Regions from separate parts of the Homo sapiens genome. Here all the other regions are linked to region 1. The links come from fine-mapping of genetic effects on gene expression. A gene starts in region 1. Each other region holds a variant in brackets. All regions are shown on one strand. Distances are from middle to middle. Region 1 holds the start of ANKMY2 (ankyrin repeat and MYND domain containing 2). Region 2 overlaps ANKMY2 (ankyrin repeat and MYND domain containing 2). Region 3 holds the start of LOC105375169 (a long non-coding RNA gene).

Evidence for each region. PIP is the estimated chance that this variant, and not a neighbour inherited with it, causes the effect. A credible set is the group of variants that fine-mapping cannot tell apart.
Region 2: its variant is the best candidate, but not a certain one, in a credible set for the expression of ANKMY2 in prefrontal cortex (GTEx, PIP 0.83).
Region 3: its variant is the best candidate, but not a certain one, in a credible set for the expression of ANKMY2 in whole blood (TOPMed, PIP 0.86).

Annotation. Positions count from the first base shown.
Region 1 is chr7:16,639,892-16,650,871 of GRCh38, forward strand. ANKMY2 (ankyrin repeat and MYND domain containing 2) reads right to left here and starts at 5,863. Exons shown (of 10, transcript NM_020319.3): 1 at 5,616-5,863. The coding sequence starts at 5,682. BZW2 (basic leucine zipper and W2 domains 2) reads left to right here and starts at 6,290. Exons shown (of 12, transcript NM_014038.3): 1 at 6,290-6,397. RefSeq lists enhancers at 5,990-6,269, 8,464-8,975.
Region 2 is chr7:16,612,981-16,623,544 of GRCh38, forward strand. ANKMY2 (ankyrin repeat and MYND domain containing 2) reads right to left here. Exons shown (of 10, transcript NM_020319.3): 5 at 2,764-2,924. It overlaps LOC105375169 (a long non-coding RNA gene), which reads left to right. Exons shown (of 5, transcript XR_007060226.1): 2 at 159-292; 3 at 3,046-3,199; 4 at 4,396-4,439. Among named protein-coding and RNA genes, the nearest start is that of ANKMY2, 27 kb to the right of the region's middle. The variant G/A (reference allele first, on the strand shown) is at 6,394.
Region 3 is chr7:16,599,696-16,610,675 of GRCh38, forward strand. ANKMY2 (ankyrin repeat and MYND domain containing 2) reads right to left here. Exons shown (of 10, transcript NM_020319.3): 6 at 10,854-10,980; 7 at 9,935-10,070; 8 at 5,026-5,154; 9 at 2,685-2,814; 10 at 84-1,250. The coding sequence ends at 1,066. LOC105375169 (a long non-coding RNA gene) reads left to right here and starts at 5,130. Exons shown (of 5, transcript XR_007060226.1): 1 at 5,130-5,216. The variant C/T (reference allele first, on the strand shown) is at 6,148.

The DNA of each region.
Region 1 (10,980 bases):
GCTCACACCTGTAATCACAGCACTTTGGGAGGCCAAGGCGGATGGATCACCTGAGGTCAGGAGTTTGAGACCAGCCTGGCCAACATGGTGAAACCCCATCTCTACTAAAAAAAAAAATACAAAAATTAGCCAGGTGTAGTGGTGCGTGCTCGTAGTCCTAGCTACTCAGGAGGTTGAGACAGGAGAATTGCTTGAACCCAGGAGGAGGAGGTTGCAGTGAGTCAAGATCGCGCCACTGCACTCCAGCTTGGGCGACAAGAGCGAGACTCTGTCTCAAAAAAATAAGTAAATAAATAAATAAAAGTAAATAAAAAGACCTGTAAAACTCTCAGTTTCCTTATCTATGAAATAAGGATAACAATATCCATCCCACAGTTATCTGAGGAGTGTCCTAATGTGGAGCACATATAAGCCTTTATTAGATCTTCTTTTTATTTTGTATTCAGAGCAGCACAATATAATTCATTGTAACATTTCTAATATCTAGATCGGGAACACGGGTCTCTACCAAAGACAAGAAGATGCAGCCAAAACAAACAGAACAGGAGAAACAAACATTCTGTTTTCAGCAATTCATCACACAACCATGAGATTCAAACACGTATAGATTTCAATCGTTATTCATTATTATTGTTTTAATTTTTTATAGATACAGGGCCTTCCTCCATCGCCCAAGCTGGAGTGCAGTGGCATGATCATGGCTCACTGCAGCCTTGAATTCCTGGGTTCAAGCAATCCTCCTGCCTCAGACTCTTGAGGTGCTAGGACTACAGGTGCACGCCACCGCACCCAGCTAATTTTTACATTTTTTGTAACAACGGGGTCTCACTATATTGAGACCCAGGCTGGTGGCAAACTCCTGGGTCCAAGTGATCCTCTTGGATCCTCCCAAAGTGCAGAGGGGTCACTCTACAGGCATGAGCCACTATGTCCAGCTGGATTGCAATCATTATTTATTGGAAGCCACGAAAACGGATATTTTAAGGAATATATAATCAAGTTAAGGATTTAGAAATCTATTTGGCTTTGTTAGTTGTTATAGTGTTTACGTATAAGTAAAATCATGTAAAAATGTTTAAAGTGCCTTAATTTTAAAACAAGAACATATGGATATAGATTTTGATATAATCATAGATATAAAGCTATAAATATATTTTAAAAGTGAAACCCCATCTCTACTAAAAAGACAAAAATTAGCCGGGCGCGGTGGTGCACGCCTGTAATCCCAGCTACTCAGTAGGCTGAGGCAGGAGAATTGCTTGAACTTGGGAGGCAGAGGTTGCAGTGAGCCGAGAGCGCACCATTGCATTCCAGCCTGGGTGACAGGGTGAGACCCTGTCTCACACACAGACACACACACACACACACATAGTGGAGACTTCTAATTATAACATGCATTTTGAAATCGTGAATTTGTGCGATGTTTCTAAAAGGTCTCCTACTCATATCTATTTTTAGACTTTGTAAAAAAATGATCTTAAATTAGTATTACAGAGCACTGTATAAAATTGGGAGTATCTAAAAGAGCTGTTGCTGTGAAAATGAAGACAATGAAGCCCATATAGGTTGCATAACCTGTCCAGCCATCCAACTAATGGTAACCATATATTTTAATTTTTTCTTTGAACTCTGTACTATAATTGGTTATAAGCAGACTTGAATGTTTCTCAACCATAAAGACACCAGAAGTATTATTAACGACACAGGACCTTAGAACAGGATCTTATTTCAATAGTCCCAAATTGGAAACAACAATTGGGCATCAATGGGAATGGATGCACAAATAGTAGTATATCCTTCCACTGGAAATAAAAGAAGAAAATAAGCTACATACTATTGGTACACATAATAAATATGAACCCCAAAATCATAATGTTGAATGAAAGAAGCCAGCCCCCCCTCAAAAAAAGGATACTTATTGTATGATTCTACTAATATAAAATTCTAGAATAGAGAAATCTAATCAACAGAGGCAGAGATCTGTTAGTGGTTGCCTGCAGATGGGGGTGAAGTTAGTGACAGATCACAAAGAGGCATAAGGACTTTTTAGGGGGTGATGAAGATGTTCATTATGTTGATCTTACTGATGGTTTCACAGATGTATGTTTAAATCAAAACTGATTAAAAAGTGTGTACTACCTGTAATATGTGCAATTTATTGTATCTCAATAGTTGGTAAGAAAAAGCCTTATTATCCAAACTTGTTTCATAGCTCCTTTACACAGATATGAAAAAAAAAAAGGAAGTATAATACTTTCTTGTTAGCAACAGTAAGCCCAGGAATTTCAGGTACTAAATAAGAGAAGTAATGTGAAAATTATCTAGCTCATAGCCTTAAAAAAGGTTTAATTTATTTCATAATAGTGCTTGCTCTGAGATTAATGAAAAAGGTATCAAAGCTTAGAAGAATGGGTAACTCTACAAGTCATATAAGCCAGTTAAACACAGTTCAGTGATTTCAATTTCCTCTTACATACTGTTAAATGAATGCTGTCATTAACTATGATTTAAATGGGTATGTTGGAAACAGATTTTCATTTTCATCTGGAACTTCTTGGCATTCTAATAAATAAAAAGCCCCACTTAGAGTCTGTCTTTCTGGAGAGCAGTGGCTGGCAGATGGGAATCACTTAAATATTTGCCGAGTTTATTTCAGATTGACCAAGATGCCAGGCTAGACTTTGCTGAAAAGTTGTTAGTTCAAAGTACTAGAACTTATTGTCTCATCTAGAGTTTTTCAAAGTTGAAAAACGTATGAAAGAAAAAAAAAAAAACTCACTTCACCCACTTTAAAAAAAATGCCTCTTTTTGGCACAAATATAAACTTTGCTTATGGCCTTTCTTCAACTATAAAATAAAAATTTACTTTAAATTTAATGCACACAGAACTACAAAATCAGTAACATTTAAAACTGAGTTAACTTGACAGATGTTGTTTTGCTAGAACTAAATGACCTCTCAAAGTGAATATTGTATGGACTGCTATGGTACTGTTTCATGTTTTGTTTAGTTTGTTTTTAGGTACAGCCTGTTTATTACCTATGGGCCCTGTGATACCTCTGCTCTGCCACTTTCTGCCACTTACCTGTTTGACACTAAGTTTCCTAACTTCCCAGTTCCTCAGTTGCCTTGCCTATAAAGTGAAGATTACTATATTTATCACAAACACAAGCAGTATTTCGAATGCTTTAACTATACTAACTACTTTCATCCCCATAACAACGTTGTGAGGTGGGTATTATTATTATTCCTATTTTTCACACAGAGGACTTGAGGCTCAGGAAAAGTCACTTGCCCAAAGGCCACATCACCAGTAAATGAGTTAGAATTTCAAACCAGACCTGCATGGTTAACCACTATCCCATGCTGTCTCTCATACTGTCATAGCTTAAAATTAATTCCTAGCTCATCCAAATTAAATGCATTAATATATGTAAAGTACTTAAAATTATGTGTGGCTTGCAATAACAGTCAATAAACGTTGGCTATGGTTGTTTTTCTCATATCTCCCATTACTTTTCTTTATGAGTGCAAGTGATGTCCCACAGACCTTCATTTGACAAGAATGCATCACATACTAGGTCCACATCAGTTCTTTTCTCATTGGCATGGTCCAATGAAAGCGATGAAAGCATCAGTGCACTCATGCAACTTGATGCACCGTGTGAGCCCAGAAATATCACAGCACTAACCAGAATAAATGCACATTAATTCAGGTTTATATAATCTTCAAAATAAATACTGATGGACACCTGAGAATGTATCCAAGGAATCCCTTCTCCCCTCTCAAAGACTCAATTTATAAAACTGCTCACTATTTTTCACTTTTAAGAGATCACATGATGGGCCAGGCCCAGTGGCTCATGCCTGTAATCCCAGCACTTAGGGAGGCCGAGGCAGGAGGATCACTTGAGCCCAGGAGTTCGAGAGCAGCCTGGGCAACATAGGGAGACCCCCACCACCCCATCTCTACAAAAAAAAAAAAAAAATCTTTCTAAAGTAGCCGGGCATGGTGGCTCGCACCTGTAGTCCCAGCCACTAGGGAGGTGGAGGCTGCAGAGAGCTGCAACTCCAGCCTGGGTGAAGAGTGAGATCCTGTCTCAAACAAACGAGAGAGAGAGAGAAAGAGACAGCGAGAGCGAGAGAGAGAGAGGACATGTACTAGCTCTGTCCTGCCTAAAAGAATTTTTGTCCCTGGTGGATTGTGAATTGATCCTTTGTCTCCTTTTTGCCCAGCACAGTACCTGGCACACAGCTAGAACTTGCATGTTTGCTTAATTGAATCCCAGAGCCATCAAAGGCAGGGAGAAATTACCTAGAGACAGGAAGAACTGAAAGACTGAAATGCCAAATAGGTCAGCAAGAACCATGCAGTACAACAATCTAAACTCTAACCCAAATCCCCAAATTCCAGGCAAAGAACACATCATTGATAGATATAGCTGTGACTGACTTAGAATAGTTGAGATCAGATCGGGTGGGCTCAGCTCATCAGCACCTGTTGAGTTCAAACCGGAATTTTTTCTCCTTCGCATGTGGAGTTTCCTTGTCGCTATGAAGAATAAATCTGCCTTATTCTCTAGGATTCCACATTTCAGCCTGGCTACTAAGTAAATAAAACTGGAAACTGGGAAGCCTTATGCTGCAATGACTGGCATCTCTGCCATTCGAGGACAAACATGGCTATATTATTATTGAGTTTAAAATCACCACATTAATTGCCCGGAGTCGCACGCATCACCATCCCTGCACCGTGAGGGTGCAGAAGAAGCATGCAGTCACGCTGATGTCACCTGCCAGGTAACGGGACTCGGCAGGGAACTCCTCTGGGACGTCCACTCGGGGACTCCGGGGAAATATGGCTTCTGGCTCGTCCTCGGGGCTCCCCGCTGGGACTCAGCACTGCGGAAGTGGGGCACGCCTTGGGGGAGTGGACAAGAAAGCGCGAAGGAGCGCGATTAGAAGGTCTCATCTGTGCAACGTGGGCCGAGGGGTGGGTGTGGAGGCCTCGCCAATTTCCTTGTCTCTCTAGGGTTCCTGAGGCTGTCGGGGCTTCTGGAAGCCAGGGAGGCCCTGGATACGGAAGTCTCAATGCAGCAAATTACAGACCTAGTTCTGTACCCTTATGAAGAACCCCTCTCCCTAAGGGCGCCCTCCACTCCCAAGCGGGGGCGGGGATCGGCAAAGGATCCAGATCATTCGGCCTGCGGAAGTCTAAAGGGTCATTTAGACACCCGCCTAAGAACCTGAAACTACCAGGACTGACCGCGGTCAAAATCCCTCGGGAGCAGTGAAGAATTCACACACTGGGGTCCACACCCCGGGAAGCTCGCATTAACCTAAGGCGGGGCGTGGAAATCCGTACGTTTCCAAAAGCGGATTTAGAGGCCGAGCCTCTGTAACTACCCCTCTTGTCCCAGCACTGCTTCTGCCTCCCCACCTCTCCGCCCCTGCAACCTTTCCCAGACCAAAGGGAGAAACGCTCTTTCCCGGTTCCAGGCTGCAAACCTTGCAGAACCGCAGCCAAAGGTCACCCAGGCCAGGAGCGCCCCCCGGGCTCCGCCACGCCCCCCGGCCAGGCTGGCCGCGGCCGCGTCGCAGCCCAGCACCCGTACCTTTCCCGATGACTTCCAGTAGCTCCTTCTCCTCCTGGGTCAGCTCGCCTTTCTTTATGTGAACCATTGCTCCCGCCAGCTTGAAGGTTATTCCCTTTCTTAGGGAGTATTAAAAAAGAAACGATGCGTCTGTATTGGGAACGCCAGCCGCAATGAGGCAACTTGAGACCAAGACACTGAGTAGCCAACCGCGGAAACGCTTCGCTTCTCTCCTCCCTCCCGCGGGCTGGCGGACAGCGGGCGAGCTCGGGCGAGCCAGGCGGACGGTCTCCGCAGGCCCTGCGGCGGTCACCGCCTGCCGCCTGTCATTGGCCCTGCCGAGGAGGAGGAGCCGCAGGAGGCGGTAGCGAGAGATCGCCATTGGAGCAACCTGGGAGGACAAAACCAAATGCAGAAAGCTGGAGGGGGGAATTAAATTCCTCCTACACGTTCCGCTCCCCTATCCTGTCCGGTTCAAATATTTCGCCACATGTAATATTGAAAATTCTACAGCTGGCAGTTATGTGCTCAGCGACGGCTTTCTGGGGCATGCAGAGGCCCCAGGTTGTCGCCGTACCCCCACCATTCCCCCGGGAGTGGCGCAGTCTGGGCGGGGGCGGTCTAGGAGACGGGGGCGGTACGGGAGGCGGGGCTGCGCCGGGTTCCGTGTGTCTATGTCAATGTGTCTGTCCTTCACTCCTCCATTGTCTGCCGCCACTGCTGCTGCTGCTGCTGCTGCCGCTGCTGCTGCACGAATCGCCGCAGCCCCCAGCCTTGCGCGTCGTCGCTACCTCCTCGGACAGGTGAGAAGCAGCCCAGGTGAGGCAAGGGGCGCCGTGAGGGTTGCGAGAGTAGCGACTGCCGCCCCGCCGGGGTTTCCATCGGGCAGGAGCTGGCGGGGAGGAAGCATGTGCCTCCTGGGGCGGCTTCCTGCCTCGCGGTGGAGAAGCCCCCGCTCCACCTCATCATCACGGCGCGTACGGGGTATCAGTGCCCTGGGATGAAGACCTCCGACTCGCAACGTTTGGCCGCCTCGGGAGACCCTGGGACCGCGGGCGGGCGGGCGGGGGCCAGCCACGCGGTGGGAAGTGGCGGGTGCACATGGTCTCGTGCGTGGCACCGCCAGATGCGGCTCCCGGGGAGGCTGGGGCCGGGGCTCTGGGCTAGGTAGGGGTCGCAAGGACAGCGCCCCATTACTAGCGAGTCAGTGAGAACAGACTCGGGAGAAGGTAGTTTTTACGCTGGTGATCCTCGCCCTCCCCACTACTTGTCATCTCTTTGGCCTCTGTGGAAGCTGTAGAAGAAAACCTGATCGCCCAATGTTGCTTGTTAAAGATGTTTGGAAACAATTTACACTTGCACTAATACTTCGTTTATGAGAGACAGCCTGTGGGAGGGGGAAGGAAGGGCTTCTTTGCTCTGCTAGAGTTCTCGGTTCTCTTTGTAACTCAGATCTTGAGATTTATGGAAATAGGGAGTGGAGGGTGGGGAGGTTGGAGAGGGCGGAGATTAAATTGGTGTTGCTGCCTATATATAGCCTTAGATTAGCCTCTTAATCCAACCTTCATTCAACTGTAATATGTAGCCTGGAGCTTCGACCATAGGTAGATGGGGGTAAATACAAGTGTGTATTTCAGAATAAGATTTGCTTGCTAAAATGCGGGAATCAGTCATTTCTCCAGGGTGCAGATTTATATTTACATCATCAATGAAAGTTTCTTTGGAAATTAGTGTTTATGTTTTACTGTTGTTTCCCTACAGAGTAGTATTGATGTTTCTCTCAATATGTGTGTCAAAGAGACGTGTATGTGTCAAAGAGAAATATTTGAGTAATTATGTAGGTGGTTTTTGTTAAGCATCCCCAGGACCACTGTTTCTTCTCATAGCGCCATACGAAAAGCGAAATGCATTTTCCTCTGGCCTTAGGCATTTATTTTGCGTGAAGCTTTCACTAACATCTGAAATCTCCTGGAATATGTTTATCATTATTTCCTGCCTTTAGCAAAAATCTTTCCTAAACTCCAGCTGTTTTTCCCCCCTAAAGCTTCAGCATTAAAGACTGGGACAGATCTGAGCCAGAACATCTTACATGAAAATGGTTTGAAATTATTCATCTCAGTGTATAACAAAGATACTTTTGTTGGATGATGCTTTAATAATGATGTGGCTGTTCAAGCAAGTAGTAAGGCTCCTGAGAGTGACCAATCTTTTGTAATGCTGTTAGTTCAGAGTTACAATTGATTTATAACATAGTATCATGCGGAAGAAACCCACAAACCTAAAAAAACAGTTGAGTGGTAACCTCCTGGAACATGTGATTTAGCATCTTACCAGCAGATGCATACACATAATTGGGTACTTCATTGCTAGTATTTCCATCTCTTGTGCCAAATCTGGGCCATGGTTACTTGAAGGTCACACCTGTTTGTCTCACTGGGGTTGTCAGTTCCTCGAGGATAGCAGCTTACTATCTATTTTCTTGATGCCTTATGACACTTGGTTGGTATTTAGTGCTCTCTGAATACATGACCAGTGAATTTAGAGACAATAACGTTGAAAGAGAATCTAACATCTACCTAGAAATGCAAATAAATCATGTTCAGTTTACATTTCTAGAAACAGATTCATAATGGGTACTGTTCATTAGATGGATTGATTACATTAGTAGTTTTGTATGGTGTAAATATTTAATGTAGGGATAAGATTAGATAATGAGCATATTAAAACAGATTCACATCAAAGAAGTTTTATTGATAATAAGATAGCTACTTCATATTGAGTATTTAGTCTGTGCTAGATATTCTACCAGATGCTTTGCATAGAATTATTCTAGTGTTATGACAACCCAGGAATGAGCCAATATTATACCCACTTTGCAAATAAGAGGACAGAAAGTAAGGGAAATAATTTGCCCACAATCCCATATTAGGAAGTGTCAAGTCAGAATTGGAATAATGATTTCTGAAATGTTTGAAATGTTGTATGTGTCCTCTCATATCTACCACTCTAGAGCTATTGCAATGCATCTTAAGTAGCCTGCTTCTCTCTCACCTGTCTCCATCTAGCTAATTCAGGGAACTACCAGTTCAATAAACATTGAGCACCCATCATTCTTTGAATGGCTCTCTGCTGGCCACAGAATAGAGGGCTGGGTCTGGCCTGGAAGGTTCCAATCCATCCATGGTCTCAGCAGGCATTTCCAGTCATCTGGGCCCTCCCACACACTGGGCTCTAAGGTCACCACTCTGCTTGTTCCCCAACCTGCCGGTAATTTCCACCCCTTTGTTCCTGCTTTTCTCCTCCTCTGAATGATTTCCCTTCCCTTTTCACTGAATCTCCTCTCCAGATCTGATGAACTATTCAACTTTCCAGACACAATTTAAACAAAACCTCTTTTCTTCAGCTTTTGTGTTCATCTCTCCCTCTCTATCCAGTAAGGGAAATATACATGCTAGTAAATACATTTATTCATGTCTCTTGGCAAGGGTTATAAGTAAAATCTTTGTACATGGAGGATATTGATATGCAACATGGCTACTGGTATCATTGCTGGCAGCCTTTAATTCTCTCTTCTTATGGATTCTAGCGACCCCTCTTTTACCGCCCCCCTAAATTGACATCATTGCTTCTTCATCTGAATCTCCATGAAAATACCTAAAACAAGCACTTTCTCATCGCATTCTATTATAGTTATTATTAATCTGTTTGGTCCCTTCTCATTCTACAGTATACATTAACTAGGTCAAATTTATCTTTGTTTCTCAGGTTTAACCCAGTGTCTTGCACCTAGTGTATGCTCAGTACAAGCTGAGTTGAATTCAGTTTGATTTCTAAGTTATTTTAGGTGGATTTGTTTTCCTACTTGACTAATCCTTCCTGGCAATGTGAGGTGAGGTGGCACTAAGCACGCACAATCATAACCAGAGGCAGAAAGTCTTTAAATGTTTTGGATCTCAAGCTTCTTGACATTCTGATGAATGCTATCAACCAAGAAAAATTGTTCTTGTGCACATGTTACAAATTTGGCATGCCATTCTTAGATTTCCCCATTAAAGACCCTGATTTCCAGCTCTCTACATTAGGAGAATGCTGCCTTTTTGTTGCATTTTTGAGTATTACATCTTTCAGGGTACTGTTTGTCTTGACATTTGACTTTTTTTCCTTAGACTTAGGTATCTTTATTGACTGGATATTTGATAATAAGAAATTTTGATTTTTTTAAGTTGGAAGTAGATTACGGTTATATTTTTAAAAGATTACTTATCTTTTAGAGATAGGAACAGAATTATTTCAGAACTGGATGAGAAGACAGCTGAGATTTGCTTTAATATAATTCTGTGACAGAAAGGAAGAGAGACTGAATGAGAATATAAATGAGATAAAATTGACTATGTTAACAGTTGAAGATGGGTGATGAGTATATTCACTTGATTATACTGTTCTCTCTACTTTTGGATATATTTGAGATTTTCCATAATGAAGTTTTTAAAAAGAAAATTTGGAAGTATTACAGCCTCTAAGAAATCTTTTTTTTTTAAACACAACATAAGAAAGTAATATAAATACAAATGTTCTTTTTTCTATACTTGGAGTTTCGCTTATGTGATTATTCATTTAAGTGTTAAAACAGTTACACCTAAATCTGCAAAGAACTGTCTTGTGAACAATGCGTTTCCATAAACATTTGACATCACATTTTAACTTCTCCAAAAAGTAAAAGGTTGGTGGCATTACTCAGTGCTTGTAGAACAAATTGATGAATATCTTACTGGTAGTTAATCTTCATCTTTTTTGAAAAGAAAATTCTGAAGAAGGGGTACAGATACATTTAGTTTAACTGAGAAAATCAAGAGGTGAATGAAGTGGAGATACTGATGTTCTTCTGTGCGTCATAATCCAACTCAGAAGGCATTCCAAAAAAAAAGAGTACCAAAACTGTTTCGAGCAATGTCAGCACTGATAGGATAAGTATTAGTCTAGGAAAATCAGGAGCAGGCCCAGGACAGGGTGTGACTGGTAGGTTCTTACTCAGTGTTTGCTTAGCTGAATACTTAATCTGACACCTACTTTCTAATTTGTGCAATTTTTTAAACTGATTTTTTGATCTTTACAATTTTTTATTGTGTTTTAGATATATTAAATGTCCTTTATAACATGTCATCCTAGACTTTGGGATTTTACAAGAATATTTAATTAATATGAAATCCACCAATCTTAGCAGGTCATAAACAAGAATACTTTTCATTCTTAACTCACTCATTTCTGTGTATTGAGGCCATGGCGCTCTTTAGCAAGTATCTTTTGGGCAGTTAGGTGCCGAGTGGAATGATTTGCCCCGTTCTAAATTTGGCGTGTATTAAGTGAAGAGTGCCAAAATTGTTCAGGT
Region 2 (10,564 bases), 27 kb before region 1:
TTTTTTAAATCCTATTTTTAAAAACTGCTAAATCTACAATACTGGGCTTGAAAATCACAATAATCAAAGACATGATTGTTCTGTGCACATCTGCCTCCTGTACACTTAGAGACCCTGCTCTGCTGACATTTTTTTCTGTGATTTTGTTTTTCTCCTAGATAACCTTCATATTCTGGGCATCAGCACAATCCTCCAAATCCCTTTTGAAAACAAATGCATCCTTATTGCTACGGCAGCCACTTAATCTAGACACAAATACAGCTATATTAGGTGCACTGTAATGAAAAGTGAGGTGTGTATTGGGGAGAATTTCCGAGGTTGTTTTAAAAGCTGTTTAACATTACACAGTGGTTATTAGTTTTTAAATAATACTCCATAGGAAATGCCATGCTAGCTTAAAAAGGGGGTAGAGCAATAAAAATGGGCCACAGTAACAAAAGCAACTGGGTGGCTTTTAGATCCCAAGGGTGGATAAAAGAAAAGGTTTCGAGCGAATAGATTGTTTATACCTACAAAAAGCAAGGTCTGGTCTGGAGGAAGGTATATAATAGGATAGCCCCCTTCATACTCCAAAAAATATTATGTAGTCTATTTCAGACTATATACCTTTACAAATTATTGTCTGCATAATTATGCCCTCAATCTAATTTACTTAAAATATATACCTTCAAAGATAACTGAAGGTAGAGTATTAATAATTATTAGGACATTTAACCCTGAAAGACTGGGTTCCAAGTAAACATAAAAAATTATTCCATAAGCCTGGCCAACATGGAGAAACCCCATCTCTACCCAAAATACAAAAATTAGCCAGGCGTGGTGGTGGGCACCTGTAATCCCAGCTACTCAGGAGGCTGAGGCAGGAGAATCGCTTTAACCTGGAAGGCCGAGATCTGTACCACTGCACTCCAGGCTGGGCGACAGAGCAAGACCCTATCTCAAAAAAAAAAAAAAAAAAAATTCCACAAACCCTTACTGCAATCTGAAGAGGCAGAAACATAGATATGAAAGACAGTGAATCAGAAAAGTACAGGGAACTTCTTCAAGTCAGTCTAAGCCAGAATATCCTGTATTGCTCAGGCAGTGGAGGAACAAGAGTCTTACAGAACCACACACATTCTCTACATTGAGAAATACTGTACCCTGACAGAAACCTGTCTCCCCATCCCAGCCAGCCCATGCCTGAGAGAGTGCCATGGACAGAGGTCAATGCTTCTCTTGGGAGTTCTCTTTTCCCTAGGTATGCTGGGAGGGAGAGAAACAGTAACACAGAAGAAAATACATATTTTTTAAAGGTTAAATTCTAAGCCCTCTGTAATCTCCACTAGAAACATGAGTATGCAGTTCACAACTGAATTTGCCCACTTAGTATCACAAGTGTTGCCTCTGGCAGTTCTTCCAGAATATTAAGAAAAACTCTGAGTTTTCTAAAATAAAAATAGCAGATTCCACTCTTCTGTCTGATGGGAAAGGTATCTACTAGTTTGTCATCTCTCTTAAGGGCCTAGAAAATTAATTTGGGTGGAGGAACACACAATGAGTAAATTTGGTTTGTTTCTCAACCTTCAAGTACTCAAGAAAGATGCACAGGGATGCATCAACAAAGTAATAAGATTATACACATTTTGGATCTTATATCTTTGAGTGAGTGTCAGTCTTCAGAAGAGTCACCTTATAAGAACTGTCCACTCATTTTCATGATGCTCAGCAGACTCCACAGATTCTTCTTTCGTAATAAACTTCTGGGGAAATCTATTTTACTACATGATAGTAACGCCTTATGTTAAGGAAGAACCTTAACTTTTGACACAACTTAGTATCTTGCTCACTTAAACAGCTCTGAACTACTATCAAATCTTTATGAGTAAAAGCATGTGATAGATACTGAAATTGAAATAGGACCTCATCACTGTAGCACACATGTAGCTGTGTAGTTTTCTGTGATGATTATTGAGGAAATTATACTTGTTTAGCTGGATTTTTTTGAAAAAATTATGTGTAAACAACAACAGCAAAAGCCTGTATTTTTAAAATCTGGAAGACAATAGCAGTGAAATATTTCAGAATAGCTCTTGAAGTTTCCCAGTTAAGCCATTTGAACTTATGTGTTGGCCTATGAAATTTGAAAATCTGATTTGATGAATTACTGGAAGAACTATGTTATTTAAAGGCATCAAATAGCCACTTAGTTTAAAAATGTGCTCATGATTACATTTCAGAATCTTTCTTAGAAAGACAATTATTGTAATAGATGCTGTTAGTGCCCCCACATACATCCTTTTTACCAGGCCTGTATACCAGGCCCCCGGGGCTCTCAGGGTCAGCTACTATGGTCTTTTCTCCAGAGGACTACCCTCATTGAAAGGGAGCCACCTCACTTGGTACTATGTGGGAGGCTGTCCTTTCCCTCTGGAGACAGGCCCCACCCAACAACAGACTGATGAATACAAAAGAATTCCTTTGCCTCTCTGGAGCCACTCACACTCCAGAGCTCCCGGTGGGATGAGGTGGAAGCTAGGCTTCAGCAAACCCATCTCTTTGCGTGGCTTTTCCTGATGGTTTAGTCTGTTTCTCTCTCGCTCACTCACTTCCAGGTTTCAACGGAGAGTGTTCCTTCAATAAATTAACAGGCCAAAAGAGCCCACTGCAAGCTCTACAACTACAAAACCCACCCCAAGACAATTATGATCCTGTATAATAAAAGCAGTTTAAACTCTGAAGCAATATTTACATAAAAAGCAAATACGGTAGACACCACACTACCTTGACAGGATGAAGATTCGTTGTGGTGATAATTTTGTGCAGCGGGCCTGCCAACTTTGGGGGCAGTTTTGGCTCTTTATCCAGTCCCTGGGGCTTAGTGTAATAATCCAGTCTCTCTCGAGGAAAGAAATTGTTGATTATGGTCACACAATCATGTTGACCTTTTCATAGAAAAATAGAAAAGTTGTAGTTTTAGTATTAAAAATAACACATCTGGTTTTTAAAATTAATTATGTTGCTATTTTTGTGATGTAAACATGCACCAATATCTTTATTTTTCAGGAAAGGAGAGTAGAGGAGGAGGAGGAGAGATAAAATATTTTAGAGAACATTTATAAACATTCCTTGTAAAGTTGATAAACAATCTTTGAAAGACACAGAATCCAAAATACATACGAAGATTATGTGGATTACAAAAGAAAGCACTGCTCAACTTGTAAGAGACCTTAAGTATTTTCTAACAGTTGCTTGTAAGTTAAATGTCTCTTCTTCCCAGCCTACGCAAATGATGCTCATGTTTCCCTAATCACATCCAGTTGTATTTACACAAAATTTAAATTTACTCCATATAAAGTATTGTTCTTACTATAATGATAATATTAAACTAAACCCCCTCCCCCTTATCCCCTACCCCCTAAATTTGAGAAAAGCTTGCCCTCTTTGTGAAATGTAGAGAAAAGGCTTTCGCTCCCATAAGCTTGGAATCCACATCGTGGCTTTGCATAGAATTCCAAGCCACTTCTCTAAGCCATCTCTAGTTAAAAATGGTTCTATGAAAGCAAATTCTTCCCTAGCGAAGCTGCTGGTTTGCAAGTGTGCTCCTGCGGCGCCCCCCCCTCCCTAGCTCCCTCTCCACTACCTCTCTGGAGCAAAGCAGTGGCCACTCTGGGCAAGCAGGCAGAAGCCACAGGGCACACAGGAGGGCGGGCGCAGGCTCTTCCTGGATCTCCGGAGGAGACTTCTTCCTCCGCTCTGCCTGATGAGGGCTGGGGGACCAGCGGAGGCGCGCCTGGGGAGAGCGTGCAGACGCCATGGCCCCCGCTCCCGGAGAGTGGTTCCCCCTGGGTAGCCTGCATGGCCCCTGCCTGCTTGTGCTTGGTCCTGGGAGCGCCTGCTTGATCCTGCCGACAACAGGTGACCTGCGTGGGGATGGCACTGTGGGCCAGCTGGACGCTGGCGCTTGAGGCTGGCAGAGGGCTCTGCTTGTCCCTGAAAGTTCCTGGGAGAACCCAGGAGTGGCAGGCTTCATCCTTGTGCCTCAGCTGGTTTGCTGACCAAACCAGCTTAATGTCTCAATTAAATGGTTGAATACTTTTGATGAGACATTTTAGAACTTTTTTTTTTTATGGGAACACCTATCTTTTTATTGAAGCTCGATGTAGATTTTGTTTTAAGGAAGCATATGCAGTTTGTCTTCATCTTCCCTGGTTTCTTCATACACATTTCTAAATTTCCCCACAGTTACCTGTGTTGATTTTGATGCTGTATTCATAACCCACTTGCATTAGATTTGCTTGGTTGAATGTCATTTTTCTCTCTTCTTGAAGATTCTATAAGGAGAGTGATAATTTTCTAAAGTAATTAATTAATGTCTTAATTGAGACATTAAATTTTCTTCTTCCACTGATCCAGGACCCTATCAGCTTTACCTGACTTCCTGGGAGGTACAGAACAAGGTACGTATGGGGATCCAGCAATTCTGAAGACTACGCCATGCCTCCAACAGAGGGCTTCTTGGGTTGAAAGTGTGTGGGTAACATTTACCATAACAATAACTACCACAACTACAGCTAATAAATGCACTTAAGCAGATTCAATTATAATATATAAATAGACTTTCAAGAGCCGCAGAGAGATTCAAATTTTAAAAATTAACAGGCAAACTGAAAGAGGTGATCCTGGTTACTATTGAGAACTAAACTAGTAACACAGAGGATGAAGGGCAGGCATGGTGGCTCATGCCTATAATCCCAGCACTTTGGGAGGCTGAGGCAGGAGGATTGCTTAAGCCCAGGAGGTGCAGACCAGCCTGGGTAACACAGCACAAACCCGTTTCTACAAATAATTTAAAAAATTAGCTGGATACAGTGGTATGTGCCTGTAGTCCCAGCTACTTGGGATACTAAGGCAGGAGGATTGCTTGGGGCCAGGAGTTGGAGGCTACAGTGAGCGTGTTTTTTTTTTTTTTTTTTTTTTTTGGGTGAGACAGAGTCTGGCTCTGTTGCCCAGGCTGTAGTGCAGTCACGTGATCTTGGCTCACTGCAACCTCTGCCTCCTGGATTCAAGCAATTCTCCTGACTCAGCTTCCCAAGTAGCTGAGACTACAGGTGTGTGCCACCACACCTGGCTAATCTATTTTGTATTTTCAGATGGGGTTTCACTATGTTTGCCAGGCTGGTCTCAAACTCCTGACCTCAGGTGATCTGCCTGCCTTAGCCTCCCAAAGTGCTGGGATTACAGGCGTGAGCCACCATGCCCAGCCAAAGCTGCAGTGAGTTTTGATCACACCACTGCATTCAAGCCTGGGTAACAGACACCCTGTTTCAACAAAACAAACAAAAAAGATCGAGTGGATGAAATATCTCAAAACAGAAAAATTCAGATATAGAAATCATTATACAACAGATGAAAGAGCTAAAGAACAAATCCAGGAAATCTAATAGTGAAAATTAACAGACATCTCAAAGGAAAAAAAGGAATAGATGGAGAATTAAACAAATGATAAAAGAAAACTTCCCTGATTTGAAAAGAGAATTTAATAGTGATCACAATACCATTTTTGGTACTCTATGCTTTTATTAAGTACCAGAACACCCAATTTCTTTCTTTTTGGGGGGATTCGGGGAGGTGGGTATTTCTTTTATTTCTTTCCCCAGTACATACGTCTTGAAAAGTCAAACAGTAGCAGTCTATATTAAAAATGTGAAATGAGCCAAGGTGCTCTGTTTAGAAAATGATCACCTCTCCTTCCAGAATCTTCAAGAGAGAAAAATGACATTCAACCAAGCAAATCTAATGCAAGTGGGTTATGAACACAGTTATCAAAATCAACCCAAGTAATTGTGAGGAAATTTACAACTGTATGTGAAGAAACCAGAGAAGATGAAGACAAACCGCACATGCTTCCTTAAAACAAAATCTACATCCAGCTTCAATAAAAAGATAGGTGTTTCCACACACACACACAAAAGTTCCAAAATAGCTCATCAAAAGTACTGAACCAGACATATGAAGACTTGAAGATAAAGGAGTCAGAGAAAAATAAGGAATTAGCTTATAACTGTATCTTCTCATCAGTCCTCCAACTAGTACAATTAGGAAAAGCAGGCAGCAGGTAGAAATATCTGTACATAAAAATAATTGCTACATAACAAAGATACTGTCACAAGACTAAGGATTTCTTTATTATACCTTTTTTTTTTTTTTTGAGATGGAGTTTTGCTCTTTTTGCCCAGGCTAGAGTGCAATGGCGCGATCTTGGCTCACCGCAACCTCCGCCTCCTAGGCTCAAGGGATTCTCCTGCCTCAGCCTCCCGAGTAGCTGGGATTACAGGTGCCTGCCACCACGCCCAACTAATTTTGTATTTTTTAGTAGAGGCGGGGTTTCTCCATGTTCATCAGGCTGGTCTC[G/A]AACTCCCAACCTCAGGTGATCCGCCCGCCTTGGCCTCCCAAAGTGCTGGGATTACAGGCGTGAGCTACTGTGCCCGGCCTAATTATACCTTTTTAAAAAGAAAAAATAGTATTACTTTACCTTTTTTTCCAGATTAAGGTTTTTCATTTTAGGTAATGCTTATTTTGATATTTTATTTTAATTAATCTGCTAATAACATATTTGAATAATATGTTTAAAGTTTATCTTTGTAAATACTTAATCATTTAGGTTTAAATGTTTGTAATTGAAATTCTTAAATATTTTACTAGTTTTAAATTTATAAATTCTGAATATACATAAATAAAATAATACTACTAATATAGAAAATAAATGCTGCAGGTGGAGAAGCCAGTACATCATTTTGCTCCCATATTACAATCACTAGATTTGAGTCCTCTAGACTTACAGGGCTCACTGAGTGTGATTAATAGGAACACACACATACAACAAGACGTATCCTTTTCAAATTTTTTACTTTCAAGGATAAACTGAAAATCAAATGCTCTTCCAGAATGAGAAATGTAAAGTTTACAATGGAAAGTAAGTTGAATTCTCATTTGCAAAACCAGAACTTAGAAAACTGTAGAATAACTTCTATATGTCGGAGAGAAAAGAACTCTGATATGAGTCAGAAAGCTAGGCAAAATATGACTCACATTTCAGAAAGAAAGGTATTAATAGTTTTGTCATGATGGGTGTCAAAGAATATACAACCTACGTAACCCATTTGAAAAGGTCCTATAACCAAAATCTAAATGAGAACAGAGATCTAAAGACAAAAATGCAAAAATGGAGACAAAGGGGAGGAGAGAGAGGACAGTAAGAGAGTGAGTTCATATGAGTGGGTGAAGATAGATGACAGGCAAATCACACAGCTGGTGGTATGGATTACTGAAAGAGAAGCAACACCCTGTCAATGACACTCTCATTACAGCTTGTGCTAAAAATACTAGACTCTCTCAGCAAAGTCCACAGCTACAGGTATGATTGGCACAGGTTTTGAGGAAGTATCAGAGAAGGCAGAAAGGAAAGACCTGTGGCCTGACAAGGCAAAAACAGAGAATGTGGAGAAATAAATGAAGTATAAGGATTTCATCTTATAAAGTTGCTAAATGGGTAAATATGGGGCCTTGGGGATGGGGTATGTGGTACTGTACAGTTTTGACCAGCCAATCACTTTAGGGAAATACATGTGTACACACACACACACACACACACACACACACACAGATGCATGCACAAACAATAGTCAAGTAAAATAAAGAGTAAAAATGAGGTAAAAGAGGAGGAATGCAACCACATATATCAGTAATTACATTAAATATACATAAGCTAAATACCTGTTAAGAGAGGGAAACTAACATTTTAGATTACAAAACAGAACCCACCTATATGTTTATAAGTTATACTACTTAAATGAAATGATAAAGATTGAAAATAACAGATGAGCAAACAGATCATTGACAAAAAAAGGAATTATGAATAGCTGTAATATCAGTAAAAGTAGAACTAAAAGAATTCAACAAGAAAAAGAGTGACATTATACAATGATAAAACCAATAGCAATATATTAAAAGTGAAAAGCTAAAAATATTTTCATTAAAAACAGGAAAAAGACATGCCAATTATCACTATTATTTCTTCTTACTTGGCCCGAAGCAAATTCAAATAGAAATCAAGATAAAGTTTAATAGCTAGAAAACGCAGTAAACTGTAATAAAAATAAGAAAAAAATACAGAAATCAATAGCTTTTCTCTTTATTATCCATAACCAGCTGGAAGTGACTGAGTGTGGAGGTGGTAGTGCAAATTCTTACCATGTGGACAGTAACCACAAATTACTAAGAAATAAATTTTGAAAGAAAGGATTGATATGAAGGAACCAATTAAATATTACTGAAAGACCAAAAGTCAGTCCCCTCCCCTAAAAGAAATGTAAAAGTGTACTGTGTAATTGGATGGAAAGTCCTAACCTCATACAAATGTTAATTCTCTGCAAATAATTATATAATCATTTAGTAAAAGAGAATTTAACTTACCACAAAGGTGGTATTTCAATTTAGTAGGAAAATGTTAGCTGGTGTAATAAATGGTGCCATCACAATTAGCTATATATCTGGGGGGAAATGAACTCTAAACAAATAAATTCTAGATGTACCAAAAAAATCATAAAAAATAACTGAAGGATATTTAGGAGAATACTTATGTAACTCCTGGTCAAGAGGCCCACTTTTAGCAAAACAAGAAACACGGAAGCTATAAAAGAAAAAATATGACTACTTAAAAATAAATTTCCTGCCGGGCACAGTGGTTCATGCCTGTAATCCTAAGGACTTTGGGAGGTGGGACGATCACCTAAGGTCAAGAGTTCGAGACCAGCCTGGCCAACATGGCTAAGCCCCATCTCTACTAAAAATACAACAATTAGCTGGGTGTGGTGGCACATACCTGTAGTCCCAGCTACATGGGAGGCTGAGGCAGGAGAATCGTTTGAACCCAGGAGGTGGAGGTTGCAGTGAGCCGAGATTATGCCACTGCACTCCAGCCTGGGTGACAGAGTGAGACTCCATCTCAAAAAAATAAATAAATAAATAAATAAATAAATTTCCTATGGTAAAGGTCTCCATAAAGTTAAAAAAGAAGAAGAAGAAAGAAGGAAGAAGAAGAAGAGGAAGAGGAGGAGGAAGAAGAGGAATAAAAAGAAGAAGAAGAAGGAGGAGGAGGAGGAAGAGGAGGACTGGCATAAAATATTTGAAACACATTTGTTAGATAATGGATTTGTATGCATAAAGCTCCTCAAAGCAATAACAAAGGGCATCCCCCCACAAAAAAATGAATAAAGAGTATAAGTGGGTAATCCACAAAAGTGAAAATACAAATTACCAACAACAGAAGTGCTTAATTTCATAAATAATGAGGGGAAAGTAAGTTCACAATGTACCATCTTTTTAACTATCAGAGTGGCAAAAATCAAAGAATGGTAATACTCAGCTCTGATGAGGATATTACTGTGAATTACTATGCCCTTTTGGAAAGGAATCTAGACTTACATTAAAATTAAAACTCTAGGCTGGTCGTGGTGGCTGTAATCCCAGCACTTTGGGAGGCCGAGGCGGGCAGATCACAAGGTCAGGAGTTCAAGACCAGCCTGACCAACATGGTGAAACCCCATCTCTACTAAAAATACAAAAAAAATTAGCTAGGCGTGGTGGCGCACACCTATAATCCCAGCTAGTTGGGAGGCTGAGGCAGGAGAATCACTTGAACCCGGGAGGCGGAGGTTGCAATGAGCTGAGGTTGGGCCACTGCACTCCAGCCTGGGCGACAGGGCGAGACTCCATCTCAAAAATAAATGAATAAATAAATAAATAAATAAATAAATAAATAAATAAAAATAAAAACTCTATATCCTTTGTCTCAGCAATTTTACTTCTAAGAAATACTTTAGAGATATTAAAGTTCTAACATGTAAAAAATATTCAAGTACTAACTTGTAAAACATAGAAAATCAAGGATGATTATTACATTATTTGTAGAAAAGTGGTTAAAAAACTGTAAAATCTGTCAATAAGGGAGAGCTAACTGAACTGTGGAACATCTATATCATGGAGTATCATATAGCTGTTGAAGGAAATGAATTACACCTACTGAGATGGGAGGAACTTCCATGATGTATTAGTAAGTGAAGAAAACAAGCTACAAGGAATATCTGCTGTGTGATGGGTGGCATTTTTAAAAAATGACAAAAATCTTATGTATGTATGTACGCATGTATACATACTGATCCACTTGAAGGAAACAAAAAGGGGAGAATGAGCTTTTTTAAAGGCTAATTATTTGGAAAATACAGTAACAACTGGAAGGGTGCAATGTAATTTTCTGTCTGTGAAATCAGTTAAATATATTAAAATGGAATGAAAACATTACTCTTATTTTAGGATAGGATTGCAAACAATTTTTACTGTAGTAAAAATTTTGTTAGTATTGTAGTGTTAAGAAAAAGAAAGGAGCATTGTGTTAATGCCTGAAAGAAGAGACTCCTCCATTTCCAGACCTGTGATCTTGGGAAATTTTTTTACCTGTATCTGAGCAATATTTTGTTACATTGTGGATATAATGAAAACTTGTACAGTTAAATAGAAGTTCAGA
Region 3 (10,980 bases), 40 kb before region 1:
CAAGTTCCCTATTATTTTTTAAGTTCTCTAATACTTCTCTAATATTTGCCACTCCCCAGCAAATTATAAAACAAGATGAGTTGTTTATATTTGTAGGCACAATTTATTTTAAAATCCACACAAGAAACCCAGAAATGCAGCATTATCTTCAGACATCACATTCTAGCTCTGTTTAAATACCACATATGCTAAAAACCGACGCCAGGACATTCTCTAAATGAGTTACAAATCAGTTTCTGGAAAGGAAGTGCTCCATGAAAAGCTTATAGCAAGATAACTCAGGCTTTCAGGTGGAGTATGGCACGTGAATTAGCCTTACAGTAATTGTGTACATAGTATGTTTAGTCATTATTGAATCAAAAGTTTCAGGAAGTACCTTTTTTAATGCATACGCTGAGAGAACCGTCAATATGCCTTTGTTCCTGCTGAGGGATCTGCCATTCTGGAGGTACAAATACTGCAGATAGAATATCACCGCAGGACTACGTCAAGTTCAGAGTGTTCAGGATCATTTCTATATAAAACTACAATTAGCTGAACTATGGCAAAGGTCCTTGAACATAAAGCCTTTCTTCATTTCATTGCATCTTAATAAGTAGAATGCCACTACCGTAAATGCTGCTTATATGTATTTTATTCACATATAAGTTATGATTTTTCTAACTACCCTCTGTAGCTATAAATTTTTCCCTTCCTGAAAATCTCTCTTCCACACCTGTTCTGCTTGTCCCTTTGTTCCCTAAAGCCTGTATTTTTTCTTTAAGGGGATCTATTTTCCTTTGAAACAATTGCTGGAAAGCCAGCCTCAGAAAGGTAATAGGAATGTTTTTCCTGTATTTTGAAACAAAAAATTTTCCATAGGAATATCCATTCAATTATAGAACAGAAATCAATAGGAAATTAGGGCATGGTCAACAGGGGTTTGCTTGAAAACCTGTATTCTATGAAATGTGGAATCCTGCCATGGTGCCACGCAGGTATAACAAGGTGAGGACAATGCATTCCTAGGAGTTTTCCAGCTTCTTGCAGGGTGAGGATCATCCACACTGGCACTTGCTCTGGCTTTTACTCCTCAGACACCTGTGGCCCTGCAGGAGCATCCTGTAAGCCTTCCAACTCAGCTTCGCTTTCAAGAGATTCTTTCTTTCCTTCCCCGGAATCTTCAGGATTGGAATCCTTTTGAGAGATACCTACTTCAGCCTCTGGTTGCTCTTCATTAACACAGTTAGAATTGACATCAAGTTTGCCGTCTGATTAAAAAAAGAAGAAGTTATTTTGTTCCTACCATGTGTCAGACACTCTTCTCAATGCTTTACATGTATTATTTAATCTTCCTATCAACTACATGAGGTATATTAGTATCTCTACTGTCATCGCTAACGTTATTTTACAAATGAGAAAACTGAGAAGAGAGAGGTTTGGTAGCTTGCTGCAAGTTTCCTGGCTAGTGAAACAGCAGAACCAGCATTTGAACTCAGGCCGCTGGCTCCAAAGCCATCTCTAAATCAAGATTGTTGCTTGGGATTTGACAAAGCCTGTATTTGAATACAGCTTTTCTGTGAATTTATTTGATGTCCTTGGAGAGGTAATTGCCTGCATGAAGTTGTTTCCCTTGTCTATAATATGCAGGTAATAAAGGCTATCCTACATTGGTGAAGAATAAAGTTGTCTGTAACATTTAGAGCAGTGTTTGGTGCATGAATGATGCTTAACAACTGGGAGTGCCCATTCTACTGACAATCTTATTCTCCCTCAATAGTGTGTTAGTAATGAACATTTGTTACTTTCTGTCCTTAGCACATAGAATAAAAAAGTTTGGTCAAGAAAACAAGAGAAGGCATGGCAGTCAGAAAGCCTGACTATTCTCTTAAGGATAAATGGTTTAATTGTGTACAAACCATTTAATTCCACTGAGAGTATATCTCAACCCAGTAGTAAAGCGGATATGGTTCCTTGAGAGATGGAGGCAGAAATGCCTGGTATCAGAATAACCGAGGCATCTTTTTCAAATTACATGCACTCCCCCAGAACATATGATACATTCTCTGGAATGAGGCATGAGGGTGGGGGCAGTTCTCCTCTCCAATCTGATAATCACTGCTGAAGCAACTCACTATTTCTGATGAAAATGGGTCACAAAACCTCAAGAGGGATGGAGAAAAAAAAATACAAAATTCACTGCTATGACACTTGTAGAAATTTGATCTGTATATTAGATCTGCAATTTAATGAATGATTTATAAATATACTCTGTAATTTCACCTGTAGTTCTGAAATTTAATTAAGGAATTTAAAGGCTTCCACCCTTAAAATCTTCTGGTAGCCATTAGTGGAAATTTAATTAATTCCCTTATTCAAAGACTTTAAAATCCTTCATGAGCAGAATATAAGTTAATACCCATTAAGGGTCCCATTGTTCCAGGGCAGTAACCTAAGCTAGAATGTAAAATATGAAATAAGCTACATCCCTCAGAATTTGATGTCTCTGTTTTCCAGTGATGTCCAGGCTGACTATATCCTAAGAACTTAAAAACGGGACACATTAAAATTTAAATGTGATTCTTACATCGGTCACTCCTGAGCTCCTATGGCTTCCAGAGAAGACGCAGTTTCAGTGTGTTAAGATCACCTATCATCTCTCTCTCCACTAAAAAGCAGAGTGAACTCGGTTTTTATATACATACGGTTTTCCTCTTGTCTCTTTTCTTTGGCAGCCTCCAACTGTTGCTTTTCGTAAATGTCCTTCAGATTCTTACAGATTTTCTTATGAGTAAACCAGTGTGTTTTCTGGCAGGTTTGATCACAATATATTACCTGAAAGCAATTGTTGGTTTATTTTCATTTCCAGAGCTTGGGTTGTATGATTTCCTAACTATGACTAAACCAAGAACTAAGCTATAAAAATGTCATTTTCCATACTTTATTTTAAAACCATAATATGTGGTTGATATAGTTTGGATGTTGTCCCCTCTAAATCTCATACTGAATTGTGATCCCAAATGTTGGAGGTGGGGCCTAGTGGGAGGTGATAGGATCATGGGGGCGGTTTTCTCATGAACAGTTTAGCACCCTTCCCTTGGTGCTGTCCTCACAATACTGAGTGAGTTCTTACAAGATCTGGTTGTTCAAAAGTATGTGGCAACTCCCCCACCTCCTCTTGCTCCAGCTCCTGCCATGTGACATGCCTGCTCCCCCTTCACCTTCCACCATAATTGAAGGCTTCCTGAGACCTCACCAGAAGCTGAGCAGATGCCCATGCCATGCTTCCTGTATACCTTCAGAACCGTGAGCCCATTAAACCTCTTTTCTTTATAAATGACCCAGTCTCAAGTATTTCTTTATAGCAACGTAAGAACGGCCTAACACAGTATCTTTGTATTGATTTAGATTTATAGTTTGTAGCTTTACTTTAAAACAATAATGAATATATAACAAACAGTCTACCAAAGACTTTAGCAAATAGCTTATTATGAACCCGCTATGTGCCAGAATTGGTACAGTACAATGACAAGGAAGATAGAGTTGTCCCAAAGGTAGCTAGCATCAAGAAAAAGAAAGATATGGAAGAAGGGAGAGAGGCAGGCACCTAAATACATAATTTCTTAACACAGTACAGGATGTAAGAGTGATGGAGGCATAGAGGAAGCAGCAACTCACTCTAGCTGTGGTGAGTCGAGGTAGACAGAAAAATGGGAAAGAAGAATTCTAACTGGAGAAAATATCTAGTACAAAAATGCAGGAACAGGGAAGTGAATGATATGTTCAAGAACAGCAAGAAGTTTTTGTAAATGGCCTTATATTTTTGCAAGTAGGGGTGGAAAGGAGATGGGAATGAATGTTATTAAACACTTACTGTATGCCAAGCACTGTGGTAGGCCCTTATACATATATTGTATTATTGGCCCCAATTCTTCATTCATCCTTGCATTCATACACTTTCTCACATGATTTCAAAGTTCTCTGCACTGAAGGGGAGGAGACTTGACTTCAGATTGGGCCATGTAATTTGTTTCAACCAACAGCATGAAACAACATGGCAATTTCAAGGCTAGTCCTTGAGAGGTCTTCTGTGTTTCTACCTGCCCATGTGTACCTTTGCTATTGCCATGACAACATGCTCAGCCTAGCCTGCTAGTACAAGAAGGATGAGAGTCACATGGAGCACAACTGCCCCAGCTGAGAACAGCCAACCACAACTGTGAGAGAAAGACTAAATGATTATCATTTTAAGCACTGAGTTTGAGTGTGTTTTTATAAGCAGTAATAATTAACCAATATAAATAGTTTGATTTAATTCTGGAATTTCATTTAATTCAGGAAACAGGTTCAGAGAAGTAAGTCATTAAACAAGATGAAGCTGAAGAAGTAGGTCACAGCAGATTATAATGGGTTTCATACAACATGCTGGAGAATTTCAACCTTAAAGTCAACAGGCAGTTGATGCTACCTATGGGATTAAGTGAATGTACGGACACATGCATGTGTCCAGTATCTGGATATGAGAACAACACAATCAGATATGCCTTTTACAAAGATAATTCTGGCAGAAGGGGGCAGTACAGTCCATAGGGATTAAAGACTGGTAACAGTCAGAAACTATAGTTTTACAAGGATATGTTGATGAAGACACTGTCATTAAAGTCAACATCAGAAGAGTAAAGAATGTATATTTATGAACTGTCCTATTCTAGGTTTCACATCTGCACCAGCCTTGGTCTCGTGCCCCACGGAAAACCTTTCTCTTATTTTCTCATATTCATTCATTCATATCCTTTCTTTCCATGAGGTGATCAGCAAAGAGGCAAAGGAAGACTGGCAGTTTAGCAGAAGACAGACACAGTAAAGAACTATATTGATCCTATTAATTCTTTTCCAAAACTACTTTTTAAGTATTAAATAGAATATTTTCGTTACTAGAATTTATTAGAAAACTAATGTCCACTCTTACAGAATATTAAAACTCAATCATCAGCTTGGCTGCATCTAAACCAGAGGTCAATGAAATAAAAAGAACTCCATTCTTACCATTTTGCAAACTGAACATCTTTTACTTGCTCCCTTTTCTCCACAGGTAGTGCAAAATTCCACATCCACAAAACCCACCTGGCCAGTGATGGCTTGGGTAAGGACGGAGAATGCAGTGGGATCAGAACCCTAGAGTGGGCATGAAGAGGAGAAAAAACAAATTCTGAAATCACCATGGAAACACTACAGAGGTATCAGCCCACGGACACTGCCGTCCTACAATGTGACACAAAAAGGAAGAAATCATTAAGGCTATAGATTACACAGGCTTTAAGACAAAATGACAAAAATCTTTTAGAATATACCATTTTCTGTACAAAACATATGAAAAGTCAGTCATATGTCCAGATAATTAAAGAGAAAAAAACACCCTTAATCTAGAAAAAAAGTATTTTTCCAATAAGGATAATTCAGTAAGCCCATAGCGTTTCAGATTTAGGACAATAACTCCAGAGCAGAATTTTTTTCTGAGAACTGACATCCAGAAAATATTCATATTCCATGAGACAATTATAGGGCACATCAAAAATGTTTAACTGTCTTAATTCTGAAAAGTTTAGTACAATCTAAGTATTTTAAAGACAATATATTTAAACTCATTTACTTGATGTTGGCTTGTAATTCAAATAAATTATCACCATTATAATTGGTATGTTCCAAATTTGTTAAGAAACACACATGCAGCAATTGAATCAAAGTATTAAGAAAAACCAAATGTGTGAAACTTACTACTAGTGGGCAATGGAAAATTAAAATAGGTTAAAAAATATTTATAATTTTTATCTATTTTTATTTTTTTGAGATGGAGTCTCTGTCACCCGGCTGGAGGTGCAGTGGCTCGATCTTGGCTCACTGCAACCTCCGCCTCCCAGGTTCAAGCAATTCTCCTGCCTCAGCCTCCTCAGTAGCTGGGATTGCAGGCGCCCGCCACTACGCCCAGCTAATTTTTTGTACTTTTTTTTTTTTTTTTTTTTTTTTTTGAGACGGAGCCTCGCTCTGTCGCCCAGGCTAGAGTGCAGTGGTGTGATCTCTGCTCACTGCAAGCTTTGCTTCCTGGCTTCATGCCATTCTCCTGCCTCAGCCTCCCAACTAGCTGGGACTACAGGCACCCGCCACCACGCC[C/T]GGCTAATTTTTTTGTATTTTTAGTAGAGATGGGGTTTCACCGTGTCAGCCAGGATGGTCTTGATCTCCTGACCTTGTGATCTGCCTGCCTTGGCCTCCCAAAGTGCTGGGATTACAGGTGTGAGCCACCACACCTGGCCAATATTTTGTAATTTTAGTAGAGACAGGATTTCACCATGTTGGCCAGGCTGGTCTCAAACTCCTGACCTCGTGGTTCGCCCGCCTTGGCTTCCCAAAGTGCTGGGACTACAGGCATGAGCCACCGCGCCTGGCCTATAAACTTTTTTTACAAAGAAAATTATAAGGGGCTGGGTGTGGTGGCTAGCGCCTGTAATCCCAGTACTGTGCGAGGCCAAGGCAGGCAGATCATTTGAGGTTAGGAGTTTGAGAGCAGCCTGACCAACTTGGTGAAGCCCCGACTCTACTGAAAATACAAAAATTAGCCAGGCATGGTGGCACGCCTGTAGTCCCAGCTACTTGGGAGGCTGAGGCAGAAGGATCACCTGAGTCCGGGAGGCAGAGGTTGCAGTAAGCCGAGATCGTGTCACTACACTCCAGCCTTGGTGACAGTGCAAGACCTTGTATTTAAAAAAAAAAAAATTATAAGGGTAAGCATTTATCTGTCTGAGACGATGCTACTAAAACCTATTTAGCAAAAAATAATCACAGCGTTTCTATTTTTCTTACCTACTCCTAATAGTTCTTTGTTCTGAGTTTTTCAAATTTGTTCATTTGTTCCAAACCAGCATTTTGACACTCTTTATAATTTTCATTTTCATTTGAGTATTTGCTTTTTCTTCCTAAGAATATTTGTTTTTATATTATCTTACCAACTGTACATAATAGAGGTTTAAAAATATCACCTGGTAACAATGTCCTACACTGTTCTGTATACTCAAGATAGTCAAAGAAAATATTCAAAGATTCAAGAAGTATTTTAAAAGTAGCACTCATTTTGAAACTACCATGTTCTTCTTGAATACAAATAATAATGACTGGGTCTGCTTTCACATGAAAGTGCTACGAATTCTCTTTTGTGCTGAGCCTTGAGACAGGCAGAAGCCAGAGTTCCACAGCAGCAGAGGGAACCAAAAGCTGAGCAGGAGGGCCCAGGCATTAGCACTGTCAGAAAACAACACAGTGAAGCTCACAGCAGCCAGCCCTGAGAACCATCGTATGCGGGGAAAAGGTTGGGCATCACTTCAGAGGGTTAGAACTTGCAGAATATGAAAACCAATTAGGCAGTAAACAATGGCTGTGATACGCACAATCACAGGCATTTGGGATGAAGTCTTCCAGACAGAAGAACATAAAACTCTCAAAGAACAAAAATGTTTAAAGAAAAGTCTTTCTAAAATGCATTAAATACTATCTTAACTTTATTATAAACCTTTTCTTGATGACTCAGATCACTGGGATAAACATTAATCATTATACTCTAGGCCGGGTACGGTGGCTCACGCCTGTAATCTCAGCACTTTGGGAGGCCAAGGCGGGCAGATCACTTGAGGTCAGGAGTTCAAGATCAGCCTGGCCAACATGGTGAAAACCCGTCTTTACTAAAAATGCAGAAACATTAGTCGGGCATGGTGGTGTGTGCCTGTAGTCCCAGCTACTCGGGAGGCTGAGACATGAGAATCGCTTGAACCCGGAAGACTGAGGTTGTAATGAGCTGAGATTGCGCCACTGCACTCCAGCCTGGGTAACAAAACAAGACCCCCCTCAATAAATAAATAAAAATAATAATAATTATACTCTATAAACTCTAATTACATTATTCTATTATATGGAGCTAGGATAACTTGTTGACCACAATATTGACCTGCTTTTTTTTTTTTTTTTTTTTTTTAAAGAACTCTGGGTTGCTGTTTTAGTTTTTCTGTTTTTTCCCAGGAAGGTAAAAGGTCAGCAACCATTTGTGAGTGCTGGAAATCCCACATAACAGGTACTGCTAGTTGCTTCTCTGATATCAATTCTCCCAGCTTCCTCAGTAACAGAAGTGTAATTTTGTTCAGAGGAGGAGTGTTTAGAAAAGCCAAAAAAAAAAATTTTCCTGGACTCCTGTGTAGCTAAGGAAAGTCATGTGACACAGGCAGAGGGCTTCTGGGAGAGCTTATGTTTTCCAGATATAGACCCCTTTGCTCTTCCTGCCTGCCTGGGATAGGAATGTGAGCTGGAGGAGGAACATCAAATGCCTCGTAACCATGAGATCATAAGTATGCATATGAGAACCTACACAGCTAAGGAATATTGGAAGGGAAAGATGAGAAAGTGTTTGGGTCCCCAAACTATTTTTAAGTCACTATGCCAGACCTAGTCTGCCTACCTTTGGGCATCTATGTATATGTGAATACATAAACCCTCATCTATTTAATTCATGGTTGGTTGGGCTTTGATATGTGCTGCCAAGACACATTTGTAATTGACAAATCATAATTTGCTAACTTTATTCTTCCAAAAGCATAAACACTAAATAGCCAACTATATTAAAAAGTATGAGTAAAGAAACTCTTGAAAATAGGGGGAGCACACATGAACAAATTAATGCATGAGCTTTATGAGATGGTCTTTTCTGCTCAGGTCTTTCTTGTTTATTTTATGGCTCAGACTAGGTGAATTCTTAATGTACAAAGGAGCATCTGGAGCCCACTTGAAGCCCTGATGTTCCACACTGAGAATGACATAACAACCCAGAGAGAAGGCACAGAGAAGGGAACCAGATTTGCCAGAGGGAGGGAGGAAGCCATGGATGGGACTGGTCTTAGGATCAATTTCTTGCCTGATAGACAAAAGCTGATCAAGTTTTTGATTGAAACGTATAAAAGCATGAATGGGTATAGATAGGGTAAACAAAAACCTATTCAAAATAGAAAAGGTGGCTGGGCGCAGTGGGTCATGCCTGTAATCCCAGCACTTTGGGAAGCCGAGGTGGGTAGATCACCTGAGTCAGGAGTTCGAGACCAACCTGGTCAACATGGTGAAATCCCATCTCTACTAAAAATACAAAAATTAGCTGGGCGTGGTGGCGCGCACCTATAGTCCCAGCCACTCAGGAGGCTGAAGCAGGAGAATCGCTTGAACCTGGGAAATGGAGGTTGCAGTGAGCTGAGATTGTGCCACTGCACTCCAGCCTAGGCGACAGAAACAGACTCTGTCGCAAAATAGAAAAGGCCAAATAAATTAAAATATATGACAAATGAATAGTAAGTCATTTAAATAACAGATAAAGTTAACAAAATACACTTATATAGTGGGTAAGTATAAATAGGTTGTAAGTATGGACATTTTCTAATCAGAGGCATTAAGGTGGATTATAGGAAGCTGAGGCATACTTTGAGATTGTTACCAGGAACCACAATGAGCCTTCCCATGGCTTATCCCACTACATCCCCACTGCCTGGACACTATCCCCCTAGGTGATCAATTCATACTTGCATCTAGTGTATGACTTTGTGCTGATAATTCATATAGCTACAAGTGTACATGTGTGTACCTATATTACATAGTGGATGTACTTAAAATGTAAGTTTCTACCCTAACCATCTACATTTCAACATAGCGACGTCCTGTTTATGAAACTATGAACCATAATAAGGTAAGAAGAGGATCGTGAGATGGGAAATAAATAAACAGGAACAGGTTTGGCAGGCAAACCTATCTCCACCTTTGTTCCTAAAAATATTCTGAAATAATAAAAATAAATATTAAAGAGAACTTGCCTTTAACAATACAATAGGTGGGAATTAGGTTTTACTGATAGAGTCAACTTAGGTAAGAGGAGCCTTACAATTTCAACAGGAGCAATGCTTCGAACCAGCTGCTGGAGGAGTGTAGCTTCACAGTAAGGAAATTTTCTGATACTTTCTCTAATGATCTTTTCTTGATACACTGGAAAGCCATCAGAAGCTCGGCCTTTTAACAAGCTGAAAGATATTTTTTAAAGCGTAATTGGAGTTGAATCACTAAGCATTCTCTCCTAGTTGAACCCAACAGTTTTTAGTAGTTTCTTCTGTTACTTATGATTTTCTTTGTCTCTTCAAATCATGATGACGGGCTCAGTTCAAATTGCTGTTCAACCTATATGTTAGGCTAGGCCTTATAAGGTTTTCCAGCCCATTAAATGAATATGCAAAGGTGACTACCACCATAAAACACACTAAACACTGTTATCAGATTAGCTAGTTACTTATTACCATGTCAGTTATTTGTACTAAGAATGAAAACTCTCATAGAGCCACACCCTTCAGACTTAGTTCCCTTTTCTAGGTAAGGATGCAAGAGAATTTGATCTCTGGTGGTCAGAGAAGCAGCATAACACACAGCTCTCCAAGATACAGTAACAGAGACACCCTGGATGCCATTACAAACCTAGGGCTGCGACCTAGGGCATAAAATATTCTCAAATTTGGACTTGGGCCACTTTCTCGCGGTGTGATCTTACACATGTTATTTAACCTCTCCAAACCTCAGATTCCTCATCTGTAAATTGCTGGTAACAACAAAAACATCACAGTAAAGGATACAGAACTGAATAATCACTCAATATAAGTATAATATTATTCTCTGTTTGTCAAAGACTAAATGTGAGTCCAACAACAGCAATTGCTGCCAAAATGTTTAATTTTGAAACACATAATAATGAGGCTTCATATTAAAAAAAATATTCACTTGAGTGTATTTTATAAACGACATAGTAAAAAGAGTACCTTTTGATCAAGGTGTCCAGTTTATTCTCTCCATCTTTTAAGAAGTTAATGCATTTCTGAAAGATACAGCTTATGTAATGCATCTTCATAGCCAATACTTCATTCATGTCTCTTTGCTTCATACATT